Linked DNA regions of Homo sapiens: regions 1 and 2 are each reported to be linked to region 3. Evidence: microRNA targets listed by miRTarBase, many of them from high-throughput screens and not tested one by one. Region 3 holds a microRNA gene; each other region holds the end of a gene's coding sequence.

What was found. The annotated mature microRNA hsa-miR-3135b reads GGCUGGAGCGAGUGCAGUGGUG and lies in region 3 at 3,492-3,513, shown strand. An mRNA with a match to its seed (bases 2 to 7 or 8) in the 3' UTR can be bound and repressed. Matches are read on the target gene's strand: a 7mer-m8 pairs with bases 2 to 8, a 7mer-A1 pairs with bases 2 to 7 and ends in A, and an 8mer does both.
Region 1: the mRNA of INO80 is a reported target of hsa-miR-3135b. Seed matches in the 3' UTR shown: 7mer-A1 at 5,964-5,970.
Region 2: miRTarBase lists SMCR8 as a target of hsa-miR-3135b. Seed matches in the 3' UTR shown: 7mer-m8 at 2,109-2,115, 7mer-m8 at 2,805-2,811 and 7mer-m8 at 5,456-5,462.

What each region holds. Positions count from the first base shown.
Region 1 is chr15:40,974,136-40,981,300 of GRCh38, forward strand. INO80 (INO80 complex ATPase subunit) reads right to left here. Exons shown (of 36, transcript NM_017553.3): 36 at 4,745-6,305. The coding sequence ends at 6,088. It overlaps LOC105370789 (a long non-coding RNA gene), which reads left to right. Exons shown (of 4, transcript XR_007064601.1): 4 at 763-826. LOC124903476 (a long non-coding RNA gene) reads left to right here and starts at 6,242. Exons shown (of 3, transcript XR_007064602.1): 1 at 6,242-6,331. RefSeq lists an enhancer at 1,754-2,953.
Region 2 is chr17:18,321,935-18,329,097 of GRCh38, forward strand. It overlaps SMCR8 (SMCR8-C9orf72 complex subunit), which reads left to right. Exons shown (of 2, transcript NM_144775.3): 2 at 683-6,122. The coding sequence ends at 1,136. SHMT1 (serine hydroxymethyltransferase 1) reads right to left here. Exons shown (of 12, transcript NM_004169.5): 12 at 5,939-6,985. The coding sequence ends at 6,816. Among named protein-coding and RNA genes, the nearest start is that of SMCR8, 10 kb to the left of the region's middle. RefSeq lists enhancers at 259-760, 761-1,260 and a silencer at 3,790-3,899.
Region 3 is chr6:32,746,278-32,753,464 of GRCh38, reverse strand. It overlaps MIR3135B (microRNA 3135b), which reads left to right and starts at 3,486; the gene lies at 3,486-3,553. HLA-DQA2 (major histocompatibility complex, class II, DQ alpha 2) reads right to left here. Exons shown (of 5, transcript NM_020056.5): 4 at 7,051-7,187; 5 at 6,267-6,883. The coding sequence ends at 7,071.

The sequences.
Region 1 (7,165 bases), not on the chromosome of region 3:
TGAGATGGAGTCTTGCTCTGTTGCCCAGGCTGGAGTACAGTGGCACAATCTTGGCTCACTGCAACTTCCGCTTTCTGCATTCAACTGATTCTCCTGCCTCAGCCTCCTGAGTAGGTGGGATTACAGGTGCCCGCCACCATGCCCATCTAATTTTTGTATTTTTAGTAGAGATGGGGTTTCACCATGTTGGCAAGGCTGGTCTCGAACTCCTGACCTCAAGTGATCCGCCTGCCTCAGCCTCCCAAAGTGCTGGGATTACAGGTGTGAGCCACTGTGTCCGGCCCCATAGGACATTTCTATAAACCAGTAATGACCATGCTGATGAGGACAAAAGCATCAAAACAGCAGAGAAACAAGATGGAAAGAATGTGGGACCTTCAATGTTCGTGTAGAGCAGATCCAAATTCAAACTCTTACATGTGAGAGATAAGAATTTATATCTTATTTAAGCCATTAAATAAGATATTTAAGCATTTTGGGGTCTGTTACAGCATCATGTGTTACCCTAACCAATATGAACAATGATATTAATTGGTCAGAGGGCTTATGGCCCAACCAGTGGACAGACACTGCAATTACTCCCTAGGGATGACCAGCCTAGTCCAAATTACTCCCTAGGGATGACCAGCCTAGTCCAATAAAGATGAGGCATGGGTAGTGGAGATGAAGTGCAAAGACACTGGCTTTTGAGCTTGCCCATTTCATTTTCACTGCTCCTACTAAAATCCGGTGATGGACTATACTGACTTACTCTGCCTGCAGATGGAGTCCGAGAGGGAGCATGCACCAGTCTACTACCTAGACCCCTTGGCAGAACTTTTCCTAGATGTGCAAGGTGATCTATACTTTTTTTTTTTTTCAAAGAATGAAAAAAAGGAGTAAAATCAACAAACTTTATTGAACTGGTTCAAACCGGAACACCCTTATCTAGAACATGTTACTTTACTTAACCAGAACTGTGGTACTGCGGCCCAGCAGAGGGCCACAGGCATCCGTGGAAAGCATGCACTGAAGCTCAGTCACTTAATTCCTAGGACATCCTACAATCCTCCTCTGAAGTTCTTTTTGTTAGCTCAGAAGTTCTGAGTTAGTTAAATGATTTCCAAGCCCCCAACAATTTAGAAAAGGTACATTAGAAGAAGGGGTGTTAAGATCAGTGTTTGGGGGAAAAAAAGATTTTATTTTTATTTTTTTTGAGACGGAGTCTTGCTCTGTCGCCCAGGCTGGAGTGCAGTGGCGCAATCTCAGCTCACTGCAAGCTCTGCCTCCCGGGTTCATGCCATTCTCCTGCCTCAGCCTCCTGAGTAGCTGGGACTACAGGCGCCCACCACCACGCCCAGCTAATTTTTTGTATTTTTAGTAGAGACAGGGTTTTACCCTGTTAGCCAGGATGGTCTCAATCTCCTGACCTTGTGATCCACCCGCCCTGGCATCCCAAAGTGCTGGGATTACAGGCGTGAGCCACCGCGCCCAGCCCAGATTTTATTTTTTAAGAGGAGCAGCTATCTCATCATATAAATACAAAAACACTGAGGCAGCTGGCACTGGCACTGGTACTATTCAGAGCTTAAGAACTGTGGCTGGAACCCCAGCACTATGGTAGAGGCTGATCAGGGAGGATTGCTTGAACCTGGGAGGTCGAGGCTGCAGTGAGCTGTTATTGCACCATTGCACTCCAGCCTGGGTGACAGAGCAAAATCCTGTCTCACAGACAATTTGTGGCAGTGTAGCTGTTGGCATGATTTAATCCAGGGGAAACAGTAGTACGTCCCAGTGGGCCTGAGAGCACCAGATGCCCACATGACCCCAAGCCCTTAGGAAAGGTTAAGGTATGTTCGGTATGTTCTGTTTAGCCATGCAGTGACACAGTATCCTTAAAAGAGAGTTCTAACCAAGCCAAATTCTGGTGCTTAGAATACCGGGTTAAAATGTTAGCCCTCTGAAAGACTTAGCTATTCAGAAAAATTCTAGGTAAGAGTTTATGCTGCTCTTCCCAATTCCACCGGGCCGAAGGCAAACTAAGACTGCTGAAGCTGAACTGCACTGACAATCCATTGGACCTGAACTCTCCCCACCACTCTGCTCAGACATCCCCAGGTAACTGGCACCATCTCTTCAAGGGTGCAAGGCATGGAGCAGCATAGGTCTTCTGGGACCTCTCATCTGGGAAATGGGAGGGGAGCTCCTTTCTTCTCTGGCAGCCAGGAACAGCTTGGGGGGTGGGCCTCTAGTTCAGGGTGGGGTTTGTGGTGATGTGCTGGGGGGGTGGTAGGAGGGTGGAACATTCTGAGCTGAGGCCGGGCATTCTCTCCCAGAGCTGCTTTAGGGGGGCATCAGCTGAGCAAACTTAGAAAACTCCCCACCACCTCCAACTTTGAACCTCTGTGCCCCCTTCCTTCTTCCCCTGAGGCTGTTGCCAAGTCAGACCCAGAGGGGCCTCCCCAATCCTTGGGCCACATATTTATCTTTGAGATTTGTGTGCCAGAACAATGAAATCCCAAGTGGCAGGAGAGCAGAGGCCTTGTGGGCACTCACAGATGCACATTCCATATGCCTTTCTGGAAGAAAGAACTCAGCTCTCTAGGAAGGAGGTAAGAGTCCAGGAGCCTCTCCCTCAGGAATCCTTGTTTCTCACCAAAGGTGCCAGGAACTGTAGGCAGGGATTCTGTGAGGACTGTGAAGTATCTCAAGCTTTGTAATTCTCTGTATACAGTATTGTTTTTGCCTGGTGTCCTTGTTGTGATGAGCAAGAAAATCCTTAATTTAAAAAAAAGAAAAGCATGATGCTCACTTCTGGCAGCAGCTAGGAGAGAACCAGGAGTCCATCCCCCAGCAGCTTGCCACGGGGGTGGGGGTTGGGGGAGAAACTGGAGCGAGAGAGTGGGTGGTGGCAGTTTTGAAGAGGAAAGGGAAGCCAGCTAAGTCCCAGGACCTGAAGCAAGAAAGAAATGAGGGCGCAGGAAGAGGCCAGATAAGGGAGGCACCCAGCTTCCTCAGGGTCCTTTGATGAGGCAGTGGGCCGCCTTAGTACTTGGACACACAATTTCGTGACAACCGGACGTCTCTGCTTTCTCTAGAACACAACCTGCCTTCTCCCTACCCCACCATCTAAGTGGTCTGAATGTGCACCATGAGGCTGGCTGAACTGGGCACCCATGGTCAACACGCTGCCTCCCCAGTTGGGGGTTTCGCGACTCTCTGGTAGTCTCAGAGAAGCGTGGGAGAGCAGCCAAACGGTCTCCATGCCCCCTGAGAGGGGCTTAGGAATTAGTTGAGAAAGATGACTGATCCAGGAGTCTGGTGGTCACAATAAAAGGACACAGGCACAGGAAACACTGAGTCCAGGGGTCACAGACTCTTCATGACATATTGCATCTTGGTGGAGGCCACACAGGAGAGGGACAGTAGCAAATCTGAGGCCTTCTCTCATACCTAACATGCCCAACAGAGGTGCTACCCAGGAAGTGATGGAGAAAATGATGAACAGTTAGTTTAAAAATGAAAAAACAAAACAAAAATGGAGAAAACATATAAGGGATTGAATTTCTCTAGAAATGCTAGGATTTCATTTTCTGTCATCAGGTGTATTAAGCTGGGTAAGAGGAAAAATAAAGTATTTCCTGCACCGGGCTTCCTGGCTGGGGTGCGGGCATATAAGCAAAGAGCAGAGATTTTTCCTGCTTGGCAGGGCTGGAAGGCACCCTAGGGCCTTGTTATTCCAGGGGTAGTCCAAGGACTAGCAAGCAGCATGGCCATCACCTGGGATCTTCTCAAGAAACTCAGTCTCAAGCCTCAACCTAGACCTTCAGAAACAGAACTTGCATGTTATGATCTCAAGGTGATTTGTGTGCACATTAACACTGGAGAAGCGTTGCCTTAAGGGACAATTCAGGTTTCAAATTACTATCTTTTCTTATGAAAAATCTTTACATAGCATGTAAAGGCAGAGCTGCTTAGTTCTGATGTTGGTTTATTCTGTGTGAGGCCTTGGTCAAGTTCACCAGCAAGATAAACAAGATCCAGAGTATCTAGTAATGTACTTGATGTCAATGAAGAAAGGCTGATCCTTGTGACTGTGGTGGGCATCAGCTGCCCAGGAGCCAGCCCACCCTGACCAACAGCGTGCAGGGTGAGCAAGGCTAGGGAGGCCACACAGCCAGCATACTTGGGAACCACATGAGCCCTACCCAAAAGTGATACAAGAGCTTATCAGTGTTTCACCCAGTCAGAGAAACGCTGGCTGCCAGGCCAGGCTGGGAACTAGGGCTCTTTTCCCAACTATCACCAAGGTAAGTTTTCACAGCCTGGATGTCTCTGGCATCCTTAGGAATGTATTTCACCATTTTCTTTCATGATTCTTAAGAGTGCAGCTAACTTTGAGAACACTGCCACTATTAAGATGACCACTATGTAGCTCTGCTTAATGGCGCCTAGGCCAAGCCGCCCACACCTCAGTCCTGGGGTCTAAGTCCTGAGTCATAAAGAGCCCACCATGGAGACAAGGGCGTTGACCACTGCATGTCAGACAGTTGGTCAAGCTTCCTTTCTGATGGCCAGAGGCAAATTCATAAGCCCAATCAATTCTGCTACTAAGGAAACACCCACAGTCCACTCCTTGTCCCACCAACCCCTGTCCTCTCTGATCACAGGCGAGGGCTCTGCTTTCCCTGTATCCTGCCACATCCACCAAGGGCTCTAGTTTGCCTCCAAGGAGGGGCAGCTGCAAAGACCACAGACACCTCAATTTACATAAAATTATCTCACTCCATTTTATTTAAGATTTTTTTATCCAGTTAGTAAAAGGAAGATGTGTCTCTCTTTATACATATGTACAAGTTCAGTTATAAAAATAGCACATTCAAAGAGAAAAGGCTTGGCATTTTTCTGATTCCCTCTAAATAGCATCTGTACACAGGAATCTGGGTTTGAGCAGGGGAATCTTAATGATTTAAATTAAATGATTCCCCTATACCCCCTACTCCAAAAAAGTTTTAAAAATCAATCTATCGAAACTCAATTCCGCGATTTTCAGGTGTGCAAATCAGAGGCTTGCCCGCCCGGAGGTACCTGCTCCACCAGGGACATCAGGCAGGGACAGGCAGAAACACCTCCCATGCAAACACTGCCCCTCTGTCTCTACTGGAGGGCAGCAAGCTCAGGCTGGCCGGGCTGGGAGGGCCGGTGCCGAGCCTGCCCCCTCTCTCCGCCCTCTTCACCTCACTCCTGCTGTCCCTTCCTCTCTCAGTGCAATATAGACAGTGCATACAGCCAAGCAGGGGACTGAAGGGCATGAGCAGGGAGACTGTGCATTCAGGATGGGCAAAGGGGACTCTGCAAGAGGGGCAGTGAGGCTGTCCTGCTGATTGAGGTGGCTCCTGGTCTCTCTACTGGCTTCTGGGAGTCCCCTGGGTGGAAGGTGCTACGGTTGCTGGTAGGATCTGAAGGTTCTCTTGGTGTGAACCATGCAGGATGGGAGGAATTGCTGGGAACACAACTGCCTGTGGATAGACTTCCTCTAGCCTCTACCATGCTTAGCGGCCTCCACCATCTCTCGCAGTCACTGCTCTCTCCAATGATGACACTCTGGGGTTCAGAGACCTGGGGAGCTGCCTGAAGACTGTGGACAACAGGTATACAATCTCCCTTACTAGCCCTATGAGAAATCACACTCTTAAGAGAAATCTCTACCATGGAAGGCTCTTCACAGCACCTGCGGAGACTTTGCAAGGGACGTGTCAGAGCCGAAGAGTGGAATCGGGATGGAAACAGTATGCCTGAGCATCTAAAGGGGGTCTGTGTCAGGCTTGCCCCGTGAGAGGTTTAAGACTTGGCTATACAGTTCACTTGAGATGCAGTGGGGCTGATCCATGCCCTGTGGCCTTCCTCCTACAGGCACCCCAGATGCTCCTGATGAGACACAGATGATAAAAGTGCTCACACCATCCACCTGCCTGTCCTTCCCCTGCTGGACATTTCCACTTCTGACTCAGGATGCAAGATGCTGCACGGGGCAAGCCATCCAAAGACCACTGGCAGGTCAGGACTCTAGCCCTGGTTTGGTTGAAGGAAGTCGGAGGGCCCAGATGGTTACCGTCCTCCAGAGGGGTTGGTGCCTTTGCCCTGTTTCCGGACCAGAGAGTCTGGGGCTAGGCTGCTGGTCATGTGGAGGTTCTTGGGATTCCCAGGAACATTATTTCCCTTGCTCAAAGGGGAACTCAAAGGAGAAGAGGCGCTTGAAGGTCCAAAGTCAGCAAGGCCAGCAGGCCGAACAAGGGATGTCTGCAGAGGACTGCTGGCGGAGATTCCTGTGGGGACGGAGAGAGACAAGAACGTAAGCACCAGTCCCGCGTAAGCTTCCTTGGAGCCTGTGGCCTTGGTTACCAGAGTCTGAGCTGGAGGAGAAGTGGTGGGCAATTCCTCCCTGCCACTCCTTGCTAACAACTTCTTGGCATGTTTGCTTGCTCTTCCTGTCAACTGTCTTTTCAGTAAGAGGAATAGATTTTTAAGAGAAAATGATACCTACCCAACCCTCTCTATACTACTTCATCCACAGATGGTAAAATGTTCATCTTGACACTCTAGATAGAGCACACATTTTACAATCTGAGACACCAAAGTTACAGGATGAGAGCTGTAACTTACTAGGCACAAACAGGTTTTTCCTTTCTTCTTTCTTGGAACATCAAGTTTGATAAGATGTTTCCTTTTCAATTTCATGCTCCTGCTACTCTCCAGTAAGTCGGGCCAGAGGGTACAAGGCTGCCCACTCTCTATCCTGTGTCTATATTCATACAGTTCTCCTTGCGCTGGCAATGGCCACCCCTGCTCTCCAAGGCCTGTGTCACTTCAAGGGCACAGCTCAAATCCCCCATCTTGAGTGATGACTCCCTGGGCAACAGTGAACTTCCCTTTTTCCTACATAAGCCAAATCCACTTACATGTGATAACACATTGATTCTTCAATTGTTTCATATGTACTGGTTTTACTTTCCAAAAAAGAATTCTAAGTGCTTGATGGGCAGACATGTCTCTCTCCTCATCCACAGTGGAACCACGGGTACTCTCTGAACCACTCCTTTCCCTTGATTTCCATTTCCAGTTGCCAAGCACTGTTGGTTTTTCTTGTGCTGCTCTACCCCCTCTATCTCCCTCACCCTTTCTGCCC
Region 2 (7,163 bases), not on the chromosome of region 3:
AGGGAAGGCTGAATATGCTTTAAATTAAGCTAAGTACAAGAGAGAGAGGTTATTTCAGGCAGAAAGAAGAGGTTTTTTTGTTTGTTTTGTTTTTTAAGACAGAGTCTCGCTCTGTTGCCCAGGCTAGAGTGCAGTGGCACGATTTTGGCTCACTGCAAGCTCTGCCTCCTGGGTTCACAGCATTCTCCTGCCTCAGCCGCCCAAGTAGCTGGGACTACAGGCACCTGCCACCACACCCGGCTAATTTTTTGTATTTTTAGTAGAGACAGGGTTTCACCGTGTTAGCCAGGATGGTCTCGATCTCCTGACCTCACGATGCGCCTGCCTCGGCCTCCCAAAGTGCTGGGATTACAGGTGTGAGCCATTGCACCTGGCCTGAACAAAGAGGTTTGTAATTCTAAGGCCCCACTGAAAGCTTGCCATGGCTCCAAAAAAGAGTCCATTCAGCAGGAATCGGACCACAAAGGGCTTTGTGGGCCACCCAGCGTGTTTTTGACCTTGGTCATAAGAGTGGTGAGGAGCCCTTTGAAGATTACAATGATCAGATTTGTCTTCCAGGAAGAGCCAGTGCATGCTGGCTAGGTGGATGCTGGCCTGGGGACAGGAGGCCTCACCTCCCAAGCTTCTGCCTCCACTTTCCCGGCCCTTGCCCTTCCTCCTGACCTTGGCCTGTCTGTTTCAGAGTGGCCTCCCCTGCCGGTGCCGGTACCCTCCATGCCCTGAGCCGCTACAGCCGCTACACGAGCATCCTGGACCTTGACAACAAAACCCTGCGCTGCCCCCTTTACAGAGGCACCCTGGTGCCCCGCCTGGCAGACCACCGCACACAGATCAAGCGGGGCAGCACCTACTACCTGCATGTCCAGAGCATGCTCACCCAGCTCTGCTCCAAGGCCTTCCTCTACACCTTCTGCCACCACCTGCACCTGCCTACCCACGACAAGGAGACAGAGGAGCTGGTAGCCAGCCGCCAGATGAGCTTCCTAAAGCTGACCCTGGGTCTGGTGAATGAGGATGTTAGGGTGGTCCAGTACCTGGCTGAGCTGCTGAAGCTGCACTACATGCAGGAATCTCCAGGGACCAGCCACCCCATGCTCAGGTTTGACTATGTCCCCAGCTTTTTGTATAAAATCTGAGGTCGGTCCCAGACACTGTGACCAAGACCTGTGACTCAGGGTATGGGGAGGGGAGGGGTTGGCATGACCAAACAGTTGCCTGAGCTGGACTGTTTAAGTTTCTGGTGTCTGGCAGCATGGTTCCCACGTGGCTCCTAGTAGTTTTTAAGTTGGACATGGGCAGAAGTGGAGCCTGGCTCCCTCTAAAGGCGTCTGGAGGGATGGTGACAGCTACATTTGGCTCCCTGGTGAAGAGTGGCCCCTGGATATGGAGGGGGCCTTGGTTTTCTGAGGACTGGCAGCCAGGGCAGAAGGGAAGCCACCAGTCCCTTGGTGGGGCAGGGTGAGGGCAGGAAGGCCAAAGCCTGATGGGAGGAGCACACTGGCTGTATTCAGCATTGCCGGACACTTGAGTGGCAAAATGAACGAGGGTGACAGCCAGGTAACTGTTGTGGTTTGGTGGAAAACAGGAGGGCAGAACACCCATCGCCTCCTTCAGACCCAGATGCAGCCCTTTATTTGCTTCCTGGAGCCCACTGTCCTAGGGGAGGCCCTGGACCAGCCAGTGGGGGTGAGAAAGGCTGCCACCCTCTGGGTCGTGGGAAACATGCGACCTTGGCCTCAGGGCCACAGAGCGTGAGCAGCACCCTGTCCGCTGTCCTCGCCACCTTTACCTGGGAGAGAAGTGCCTGTGAGCGGGCCTTGGGACTCACTCCCCATACTCTTTCACCAGGAACGAGCAGAGTGTTCACTAGTCCTAGTGTGAAGCGGGCACAAGTGACCAAAGCCAATGGTGAGGACCACCTTGGGGGCTGGAGAGCACAGCAGGCAGAGCAGGGCTGAGGCGCCATGAGGCCATCACCACCATGCAAGGGAGGAGCAGCCAGCAGCTCTCCTGGGTGGCCCACTGGCTCCTGCCGGCCAGAGCGCATGAGCACTGACCTTCCTCGTGGGGAAGGTCTGCAGACCCGTGTGAACATGGCAGAGGCCACACTCCAGCTCCCACCCACATAAACCTTTGCAACCACTTCACTACCTCTCACTGGGTCTCGTGGGCTTGGGACAGCAACGGTTCTGTTTAGTCAGCTGGTGCAGGTGGTTGGCCCAGCCGATGAGAACTCAAATAGCACGGATTTCCTGGATGAGCTACCACGTGGCGCTCTTCAGGTTCTGCCTCTGGGAGGCTGTGTGCACCTCAGTCACCACAGCTCACGGCCGTCCCCAGTTGAGTCCCCCTTCTGAGGACAAGTTTGAAACTGGGAAGGAGACACCCCCTGGTTCCGCCAGCACCTATCCCACTGATAGTGATCCCCTGGCCTCCCCGAGCCTCCTTAGGCAATGGCCACTGGTTTGTAGACAGAGAGTTTCTTGCAGCCTTGAAAATTTTATTCCCTAAGTGGGGACAGCTCTGGTATTACTGCTTCTTTAATTTGTTCCACAAAAATTATGCTGAAATGGACCTGAATCAGCCCTGGGTGTGCTTCTGTTGGCGCCTGCTGCTGAGGCCCGGCCTGCCCATCGGCCTGTAGTACGCCATCGAGGTCATCATGGAGCCAGCCAGCTTCTCTTCTCATCAAGGAGGCAGAGACCCCTGGTGGAAGCCAAGAGTGACCGAAGAGGGCTTGCATCACGTCACTCCAGTGGTTCCCTCCTTGTCCAAGTCCTCGTTTTAAGGGCATGGCCCGTTGGCTCCAGCCGTTGGCTTCTGTTCAGGGTCCTTGCTCCCATCAGAGGTGTTTGATTTTGCTCCTGGGGCTGCGATGGAGAACCTTTTGTGGCAGATGGTGCTGCCTACATCTCATTGGTTCTCTGTACCTGTGCCCGTTGCGCATGTTCACAGACAGGAGAGTCGCCAGCAATACCTTGGCAGCCTTTAAATGTGAAACGTCTGTTACTTGCGCTGGAGGCAGAGGCTGTGCAGGGAGCCTGCTTCTAATCGTGGGCTCCCTTATCTGTTACGGTTCCCTCCCCTCCTGTTCTAGATGCTGATTCGTTTTCTCACTGGCTGGTTAATTGCTGTCTACTTAGGCCTCCAAGGCCATAACTGTGCAACATTTTATCTGAGAAGGAAGGAAGGTCAGAAAGTGATCACTGGCACCACCACTGTGGCATTCCTGTCACACCAACACAGAAATTCACAGCTCATACTGTTCTCACCTGGGAAACTTGGGAAGGGCTGATGAGTTTGGGGCAGATCCTGAATTGCAGCCACACTTGGCCTTCTAGAAGCTGAAGTTGTGCCCTCAAGTGGTCCTAAGTAGAAGTCCACTTGAGGTATTTGCTGGCACACACCCTCAAGGGTGGTTCAGAAGGTCCTGAAACCTAAGGCAAAAGGCTGCTGGGGCATGAACAGAACAGACCGTCTCAGGGGCAGCCATGTAAGTGGCAAGCAGGGCTGGTCTCCCTCAAGGTGGTTCTTCATTAAGTAAAGATGGCTTCGTGACTAGTGTTTAGCTCCCAGATTTATATTTGGGTTAAAAACTAACTTTTCAATGTGGCAGTTTCAAAGGATTACTTGATGCAAAGTATGTTTCCTTTCAAAGGGATCTTGACGTGGTACCAGGACTGAGTCATGATTTGGGCAGAGGCAGTTAACACTGGGAAGCCCTGCCCCTCCCTATGCCCCCTTCACTCCGGGGAACTGAAACCTACTCTGAGTCTCACATCTCTAAACCTCAGTGCTGAGACCTATGCAGTGGGACTAATCTCATCAAGAATTTTCAGTTGAGGCCGGGCGCAGTGGCTCACGCCTGTAATCCCAACACTTTGGGAGGCCGAGGTGGGCGGATCACCTGAGGTCAGGAGTTGGAGACCAGCCTGGCCAACATGGTGAAACCCCATCTCTACTAAAAATACAAAGAAAGTTAGCCAGGTCTGGTGGTGCGTGCCTGTAATCCCACTTACTCGGGAGGCTGAGGCAGGAGAATCACTTGAACCCAGGAGGCAGAGGTTACAGTGAGCCGAGATCGCGCCACTGCACTCCACCCTGGGCAACAAGAGCGAAAACTGTCTCAAAAAAAAAAAATTTTTCATTTGAGGTATTCTTCCAGTAGAAGGTTAGTAAGTTTTTAATGAAACCATTAAAAATTACACTTCCCAGAAAATAGATGACATCAGTGCCCCTTGCTACTTTCTCAGTCCTCACTATTGCTTTGAGGGCCCAGGTACTGAAACTGGTTGTCTTGAGTTTTGTGTCAGCTTTTTCTCCAGTCCATTATCCCCCTCCCTTGCTTCTGAAGCAGTCTAGGTTAAACTAGCCAGGCAGGTAGTTGTGGACTGGTGATTTTCAAAAGCCCCACTTTAGAGATCAGGCCACAGCTTTTTATATCGCACAGGACACATCAGCCTGAGCTGCTGCCTCATGCCTGTTTCCCCAGGAACCTCACTCCTTTGGTAGAACCTTGGGATTTTAGAAATTGTGGCTTTTCCATAACTCATTTACTCCAACAGTTGAAGTTACACACATTGCTCCCAAATTTGGAAATAGACCACAGTACCTTACCTTTCATTCCCCATCTGGCCTTTACCTTCTTTGCTTCAGTGGTTGAAAACAGTTGCCATATTCAAAGTATAGTAGATTTCAACCTCACACAAATGACAAGTCCCATTTTACAATCCTAGGAAGGCCCACCAATTTCATTTCACGCGCCAGGGCGGCTGCAGTTGGAGGCCGAGGGCAGCCCTCTGCTCACTGAATGTCTTGCATGTGCTGACTGCTGCCCGCAGTGCTGAACATGCCCCACCGCCCAGGCCCAGCACTGCTTGTTGGGTCAGCATCTAGTGCTGCTGTCACATCTTTGTCTGCACAGCCAGTAGGATTGCCTCAGCCAGGGGGTTTATCAGAAGGTGTGCAAGGCCTTTGGGGGAACTGAGCCCCTATAGTGGGCAGTCTCCTTTACCTTCCCACCTCCCTGAAAAGCACAGAAGACAGTGCCTTGGTTTGTGTTTTGAAGCAAACAAGTCAGCTTTCTGGCTTTGCCCCAAAACTGTGATGGAACATAATAAAACTGGAGATATGGTTTTTAACACTGCAAAAAGGAAAAAGCATCAAGTTTCTACTTCTGGCTGGAAAGCAAAACCAATCTCAGCTGACAAGGCTGGGCAAACTAAGTTTTCCTGAGCCCATTTTCCTTTGAGCCCTGACCTAGCCTGGCCTTACCTCATTAAGGTTTGGTTAAAGCAGTGGAAAGGAGGAGGAGGCAGGGGTGGATGGGGGTGTGGGGAGGGGATGAGCACTCTGCAGCCGATTAATCTGTTGGTAGGGGCCCAGCTTCTTGGGAGTGCTTATTCAGCCCAAGAGTGGAGGCTGTTTACAGCGAGCCCTGGAGATGGCAGCTTGTCTCCAGCTGGGGAGGGGTCAGGCCCCTAAATTGAAGACCACTTTGGTAGCAGAACTGTAGGGACTGGTGAGTCAACTCACAGATTCTGCAGCAGCTGCTCCACCCACAATAAAGCAAACGCCGACAGGCTAGACCCCAGATTGCAGGGGCTGCCACCTACAAGGTGGGACCACAGGCTGCCTCACCGGGATTGTCTGCCACTAAATAGCTGGAGTCACAGATTGAGATAAATGCCACCTTCAAGGTTGCAGTGAAAAGCATAATCCTATGTGATGAATTTATATGTGTTATTTTTTAAAAAGCTATTTTATTACTGCATGTTCCCGTCCCGTCTTGTGAATGTGAGTCCCCGCCACCACGTGAGGTGCAGTCGTTGCAGCGGCTGGTGCAGGAGTGCAGCTGGCGCGTGTGTGATAGCATCTCGTAGGTGTTGCTGCACAAGAGTTAACCAGAGTCAATGCCAAACACATAGTATGAGAAGTGTACTTTTTAAGAAATTAATTTATTTGAGTTCAAATATTTTTGAAATATAAAAATTGGTTGTATTTTTTAAAGCTATAATTCTTGTAGACATTCTGTGGTTAAAAATTTGATTGTGCTTATTAAAAATGGTCATCTATGTTTTGCACTTCAGCTACGTGAAAATAAAATTTCTTTGGGAAGGTGACATTTGGCTTCCTGATTACGGGAGGGAGTTGGTTATCTCAGGTGGAGCAGGAAAGCCTGGTTGATTCTCACACCAGGATGGGACTGGGACTTCCCAGGATGGAGGGAGGAGGCCATTTCTACACCATACTTTGAGCTACTGACAGCAAAACCCTCCCACCATACTGGGTGCATCTTGTTTACTCTTGACTAACATACACTTCTGATTTACAGCAGAAGCCTCAGAAGCTAATTCAGTTCTCCTTTGGCATGCCACTGGATAACAAGATAGTGAGGGGGCAGTGTGTACAAGCTGTGGACATGGGCATTTCCTCTCTGTTGCAGCAAGGCGGAGGAAAGCCCAGGGAGAGTAAAACGCTACAATCTTTCTAACAGCTTTGCCCTACACCACCATCTAAATGATTATGACCAAGTGGCGACATAGTATTTTATTTTCCTAGAATTATGTCCAGCTGTGAGAAAGCCAGGTTCAAATTTAAATCCTTTAATAACCTGTCCCAGAATTACTAACAATGAGACTTAAACAAATTTTGATTTGTGAAGAAAACATGAAAAAAGTCCAAAAGAAACCCCCTCAAAGGGCCCGAGTGTCAACAGTTCCCCTTTGGAGCAGCTCATCCATCTCTCAGGTGGGGGTCCTCCGGCAGGCAGCTTCCTCTGTGGCGCCAGGTGGGTCCAGAGTGGGCCCGCTCCTTTAGAAGTCAGGCAGGCCAGGCAGAGGGAAGAGAGAGGCGAAGCTCTCAACCTCCTCCCGGAGAGCCTGCACGGCCGCCTGGTACTTATCCCCTGCCAGTCTCTCCTTGAACTCTTTCAGGGTGGCTCTGACACCAGTGTCGCTCTGGATCTGCAGGGTCAGCTCTATCCCTGTGCCACAAGACACAAATGAGTCACCCCACACTACACACCAAAGGGGGTACAATGGCTGGGGGCCGAGGCACAAATGTCAGAATGTCCCCCAGCTGGGGAGTGTGGCAGGGCACAAGGTCTCCATGCTTACCTCAATTACTCTGAGATGCACCCACCCTTGGACAGATGTCCTGGG
Region 3 (7,187 bases):
CTAGAACCAATCCCTCATGGATGCCAAGGGACAACTGTATGATATTGTTAACTAGTCACCATGCTGCACAATTGATCTTCAGTACTTATTCCTCCTCTCTAACTGAAACTTATACCTTTTGACCAACATCTCATTCCTTTTTCTCCCTCTCCCCACACCCCACCCCCTCCATGACTTTGACTTTTTAAGATTCTGCATATAAGTTAGGTCATGTCGTATTTGTCTTTCTGTGCCTGGCTTATTTCACTTAGCATACTGTCCAATGGGTTCGTCCATGCTATAAATGACAAGATTTCCTTCTTTTATACGGCTGAATAGTATTCCATTGTGTATATGCACCACATTTTTTTTATCCATTCATCTGCTGATGGATAGTTAGGTTGATTCCATCTCTTGGCCATTGTGAATAGTGCTGCAATAAACACGGGAGTGCAGATATCTCTTTGATACAGATTTCATTTTCTTTGCATATGTACCCAGAAGTGGAACTGCTGGATCATGTGGTAGTTTTATTTTTAATTTTTAAATAGATGCTGAATTTTATCTGTTTGTTTTCTTCCACATGAATGTATATGTACTCCCAGGAACTAGAACAGTGTTTCTGCCGTCAGTGCTGTTCCACTGTACCTAAACTCCTCCCTTTGAGACTGAACGATTTATTCTGTCATTGCTGGGAATGTTGCTGGCTGACTGCCCTCAGCTTTCAGTCACGCCCCGGAATTGCCTTAGGTGATGAAAGCTGCCTCATCGGATTTTGATCCACTTCCCAGGAGGAACTCGCCTATAATGATTGGTCAGTATAGGAGTATACAACCTGCTCTAATTTGGGCCGACTCTGAGGGGCTCTTGCAGCTTCTGAATAGCTTAGGCCGAAGAATAACAGTCCATTTTTTTTGTAACTGAAATAATAGTCCAATTTCTAAAACCTTGCTCTAATTCATGAGTCATTTTACATACTTTTTCCAGTTGTGATTGTAATTTAAATATATTGATCTTTGTGACTTCTGTAAGTATGGGCAATGCCTCTTCCCCTCCTTCTTGGAAGATGAAGTTATTGGCATTTTCACCCTCCCTTTCCCCTCTCCTTTACACTTCCAGTTGCCATAATGAAGTATCTACATCTTTTTTTTCCCCCCAATATTGTCAAAGCTGAAAATATTGACATTCTGCTGTAGCAATAAGATTCCTTGGGCTTTGCTCACAGATTAATTCTAAATTTGAAAAAAAAAAGTTTATCACTTTCTAAATATCACTTATGTAGTCAGGTATTCTTTGCTTGCCAAGAAACTGCTGTAGTAGGATCCGTTTTCAGTGAGATCCTGGGTTAGACCCAGTTTCCTGGATTCCTTACCTTCCTATATCCTGATTAACAATCTCAATTGGTCATATCCTTAGTCAATTTCTAGTAAAACTCTGCGTGGTAGGTAAATTTTATGTTCTTTCACATTCACAGGTATTTTTATTCTTTCTCCATGCCTGATTGTGACTTTGAAAAGATCTACATTTATTAATAAAAAATAATTTTCCTTTAGAACTTCAAGGACTTTCTCATTATCTTAATAATAGAAGTATTTTTTTTGTTGTCAGTTTGTTTCATTTTGGTTTCCGCCACTGGAATATTTTATGACTTTTCTATAACACCTGAAGTTCTGAAATTTTGAAAATGAGATATTTAGAAGTGAGTCTGTTAATTTTGCTAAATACCTGACAAGACTATTCCATGGAAGAATTAAATCCTTTATATCTGGAACATTTTCCCTTATTATTTGTTCTGATCATTTTCTCCCTTCATCTTCCCTGTTGGTCTCTCTAGCTTTGTCACTTGATGTTTGACTTCCTTGGTCTGTTCTCCATCTTATTTTTTCTACCATATATTACATTTTTTTTTTGCCTTTTAAATTACTGTGAGATTTTCTTGATTTAATTTTCCAATCTTTCTATTAAATTTTCCAATTGTTTTTAGCATTCTATTATTACTTTTACAGATCAAGAATTCTAATTAGAATGACTTTAAACTTGTTTGCTGTTACATGAACTTTCTCTATTAAATCTGTGATAATTTTCATGTTATTTTATTCTCATCTTCTCTTTCATATTGTAAGAGTTTCTCAAACATTTGCTCTGGCCTCTTCAACCTTGTCCTTTACCTACTGTATACCACCTTATTTCATCTCAAGATACATTTCTTCAAGCCACTTCTAAACTGCCCCAAACCATACCTGGTCCCTGTGCAACACTCTCTCATTTTACCTCATTCTTTTTCTTTATAAATGTTTCAGACCTTGTAACTATGTTTGTGGAATTATGTAATATATGTATTTTCCTCCCACTGGAGTGTAAGTTCTATGAAGATAATGAATGTAATTGTTTTCACATTATTTTAATAACATTCAACAAACTATGAGTACTTATTGTAGCACTGGTACTCAATGACCATTTTTGCATTTTTGATGAATTAGTGAATATATAAACAAGTCTGGGGGCTTAGTCCAGCCAATAATAAAGCAAGCATTACTTTGCTTTCCTTTGTTATTATTAGTTCCTGCATACACATTCTTTATAGTTGCATTCCTGAGAGGTTCTTACAGTCTTGGGCAGGCCTTGGACAGGGTTTCCTAAATGTGATAAAAATGAGAAAAACTGAAAAACTAACATAACTTCAAACAGAATGCTTGTCTGCCTATGTTTATGGGACTTTCCTGAATACATTTAAAAAAAAAACCTTTGTATTACAGAAAATTTCAACTGTGTGCAATAGTACAGAGAAGAATTCCATGTATCAACAGCCTTGCTTTAACAATAATCAATTCATGAGCAATTTTGTAAACCCACCCAGTTATCATACAGGCACATACTGGATTATTTTGAAGATATTTTTAGGTATCATATTTCATTTATACATTTTTATTATGAAAATCTAAAATATAATGGCTTTTTAGAAACATAACAGCAATGCCACTAACACATTTAAAACGAGATAAATAATTCCTTAATACACTCAGTGTCAATTTTTCTGATTGCCTCATATAAATTTTTTAACAGATGTTTTGTTTGAATATGAATCTAGACAAAGCTCAGCGTTTGGTTACTATATTTCTTCAGTCTTTTTCAAGTGTATAGCTTTTCTTTTCTCTATTTTTAACTTTTTTTGCAAATTGTTTGCTGGAGAAATCTTTTTATTTAATCTAGTAGAACTTCTCATATTCTGAATTTTGTTGCTTACATCCTTGTGGTGTCATTCATCATGGGATTTTGTCTTGGACTCCAGAAAATAACAATAACACAAATTTGTTAACTTCTATAAACTGCTTACTATGGGCCAGACTGTGTGTGAAGTGCTTTATTTGTAATGTTTAATTCTTCATATCTCTAGTTTGTATGTGGTAAGTACAAACCTGAAATATTTTACGTGATTTTTACGTTTTGTAATTTTTATTTATTTATTCATTTATTTATTTATTTTTAGAGACGGGGTCTCGCTGTGTTGCCCAGGCTGGAGCGAGTGCAGTGGTGCAGTCAGTCCTAGCTCACTGCAGCCTCGAACTCCTGGGCTCAAGCAGCAATCCTCCTGCCTCAGCCTCCCTACTAGCTGGGACTACAGACTGGTCTCCATCTCCTGGGCTTTAAGGGACCCTCACCTTGTGCTGAGATTACAGGCATGAACCATTGTGACTGGAAATTTTGTAAAATTTAAACAATGTGATATTACCTATTAATGAAGTCATACTTTATGTATGTAATCTGAAATAATTCAGATAACAATTTTTAAGAATCATTTAATTTAAAATCATGCAGCCTGATTTATAACTGTTTATAATAATAATATAATAATATAATAATGATGATTTCACTTTGAACTTTTAGCTGATAAAAAGATATATTTGCTCTATTTTATAAAACTAATTTTAGCTATGCTATTTTAACATTATATAAATACTTTTTGAATACATTCTTTCAGTAAAATCCAACTACCATTATATTTGCTTTCCTCAGTATTTCTTGGGGAAGGATTCTAAATAGGGGAGCATTTGTGTATTTCTGTATGACTCTGGTTATAATGCCATTCAATGTAAGCCTTACACACACACACACACACACACACACACACACACACACACAAATGCACACACCTCCAGAATGCTGGGTTCTTGGCTCATGAATCATTGAAATTTATATAAAATTTATTTTAAATCCTATTGCAGAAAAGTTCTTAGCACATTCATGCATTTTCATGTGACCATTTTTATACTACAGTTTTAATTTTATATATTTGGGATCATTATTGTTGACCTTTTCTTTTCTTTTTTTTTAATAGAGTTTATTTTAGAGAAGTTTTAGGTTCCCAGAAAAATTGTAGAGTACAGATAGATGTATCCCATATGCTCTCTGTTCCCACACATGCATAGCCTCCCCCACTAGTAACATCCTTCATGACAGAGGTACATTTGCTACAACTTATGAACTTACACTGACACATCATTATCACCCAAAGTCCATAGTTTATATTAAGGTTCATTCTTGGTGTTGTACATTCTATGGATTTGGGCAAGCGCATAATGATATTTATTCACCATTGTGGTATCAAATAGAGTAGTTTCATTGCCCTAAAAATCCTCTGTGTTCTGTGATGGACGTTTTCATGATCACCACTGGTTCAGATTCCCTGCACTTACTAATTCCCAGTCTGCATTTATAATTATTTTCTCCCGGAGTCTCCCCACCTCCTCCCCAAAGTAAATATGGATAAACTGCTGTTGCATATAATTCACCTTGACTTAAAATTTATGGGACATAAGGAGGGAATATACCCCTTAGAGAGTTAAAAACCGAAGTCAAATATTACAACTTCTTGTCCTAAGAGTTCTCTTAGCAACCCAATCTCAGCCTCTCAAGAAAGAAAAAAATCCTCCAGTTAACATATGAAAAGAAACTCACTTTTACGTCTACGCTTGAATCTCCTAAATCACTAAAGGGCTAAGGAAAACAAATGTACTTTTCATATAATATGATCCATTCTTTTTAATAAATCCATTATAAACATAACTGCAGTGTTTTCTTATATATTTATATACTACGTGTAAGGCACTGTCTATATACCAAGATTATTCAAATTCTGTCAATAACTCTGCAAGGAAAATATTATCACTCCCACATTGTGGATGAGAAAAATAAGGTTCAGAAATGTCAATCAGATACTTTACCCAGTAAAGTTTAAAATACTAGCTTCAAAATACTGAGTCAAGTATTTGGATTTAGGTTTCTTTGTACAAAACTATGCTGTATCAATTATTATGTTAATGTTTTGTCTCTTTTTTTTCTCCTATTACATTTTAAACTCACTGATGCAGATAGCATGGACAGAAATATCCTGGCAGATTTCATAGCTGTTTAGAGCTCTCAGGTCCCTGTGGACCCATTTCCTCTGAGAGATTTTCTATTAGGAGACCACGAATCCAGTGTAGGACACAGCACCCACTACTGCTGCTACATTGTCTCAACTGTCTTGTTCTTCCTAGGATTTCTCTCTCATAGGCTCATGCTTTCCTTAGCCAGGAAGGGGGAGGAGCAGGGGGCTGGGGCCCCTAAATGGGTCTGTAGCTTCTACTTCTATCTGTTTTCCATTGTCACTAACCCTAAGTAAGGAACAAGCATTTGTTCCTTTTCAGATACCCCCTTATATTATTGCCTTATTTTAATATTTTTCTTTTTTAAAAAATTTATTTATATGTATTTATTTATTTTTGAGATGGAGTTTCATTCTGTTGCCCAGGCTGGAGTGCAGTGGCACAATCTTATTGCAACCTCCACCTCCCAGGTTCAAGCGATTTTCCTGCTTCAGCCTCCTGAGTAGCTGGGATTACAGGTGCCCAGCACCATGCCCAGCTAATTTTTGTATTTTTAGTAGAGACAGGGTGTAACCACGTTGGCCAGGCTGGTCTCGAAGTCCTGACCACAAGTGATCTGCCCACTTTGGCCTCCCAAAGTGTTGGGATTATAGGTGTGAGCCACCGTGCCTGGCCTTATTTCAATGTTTTTCTAACTGGCTTCCATTTCTTTTCCTGCCTAGAGAATTTTTATCTCCTCAAGGTGAGAAGGGGAGAGGAAAGCTTCTACTGTTGTCATTCTTCACAAATTTAAAGTTTTGAGAATGCAGTTTGACTTTTGGTAACAAAATTTTTTACTTTTGATAACTTTTGAGATTCAAAATTCTTGTATCCTATTTCTCTGTCATTCCTTTTAAGAGCCATATTGAAATTAGTACAGACTTTTTTTTTTTTTTTGTATTTCTGCTATAACCATTCTGAGCCAAGGGCAGAGGGTTCGTTGGTACCTGAATTGAGGGGTGGCTGGCAGTGGCCAAGGGTAGGAACAAAAGGAAGAAAGAAATATTAACACCAGTTAAGAAATCAACAAATTATCAGGATACACTGTACTTGGTTGCTCCTGTGTTACTGGACTTGAAATATGATCTGGGGAATGATATGAAATTGGCCTAAAACATAAGAGTCGCCCATTCTAAGTTATGCTCTCAGTCAGCCCTGAGATGAAAGATGGGAAAAATTCAATAGAGGCATCAAAAGGGAATTTATTGCTTCCATGGAGATTTTAGATAAAGGTCATTGAGGAATTAGGTAGCTGAGTGGCTTACCCAGGCATCCCTTAGTAGGTAACATTTGAGAAAATAAAAAAATTCAGGAAAGGAGGTCAGGGAAAGAATTGAAAGGCATTTGTGAGCTCTGAGGGAATATAGCACCTTAAGTCCCAGAGAAGAGGTGAGAGAAGAAACATTTGGAGGAGAAAAGGGATATGATAAATCAGGCCAGAGAATAGTGCTAGGTCATTTAGCAAGTCCATTCTTCTTCTCCTGTAGATGGTGATGCACCTGCAACAGGACAGACATGAGATCGATGGGTCTGAGGGGCCTCCTGTGTGATCATCATGCCACTTCCCAATTCGCCTACAACTTTCAACCACATTCATGTCCACAACCCCCTCCCACTTTCCTCCCTCTCATACTGAGGTTTCAGCTCCAACAAATCTCAATCTTACCTTCCTTTTCAGGATGGGATTCATAAGAGCCCTTGGTGTCTGGAAGCACCAACTGAACGCAGGCCTTGGATGATGAAGACAGTGCCCACCACAATGCCCATGAGGCCCACAGACAACCCCAGGGCGCAGACCAAAGT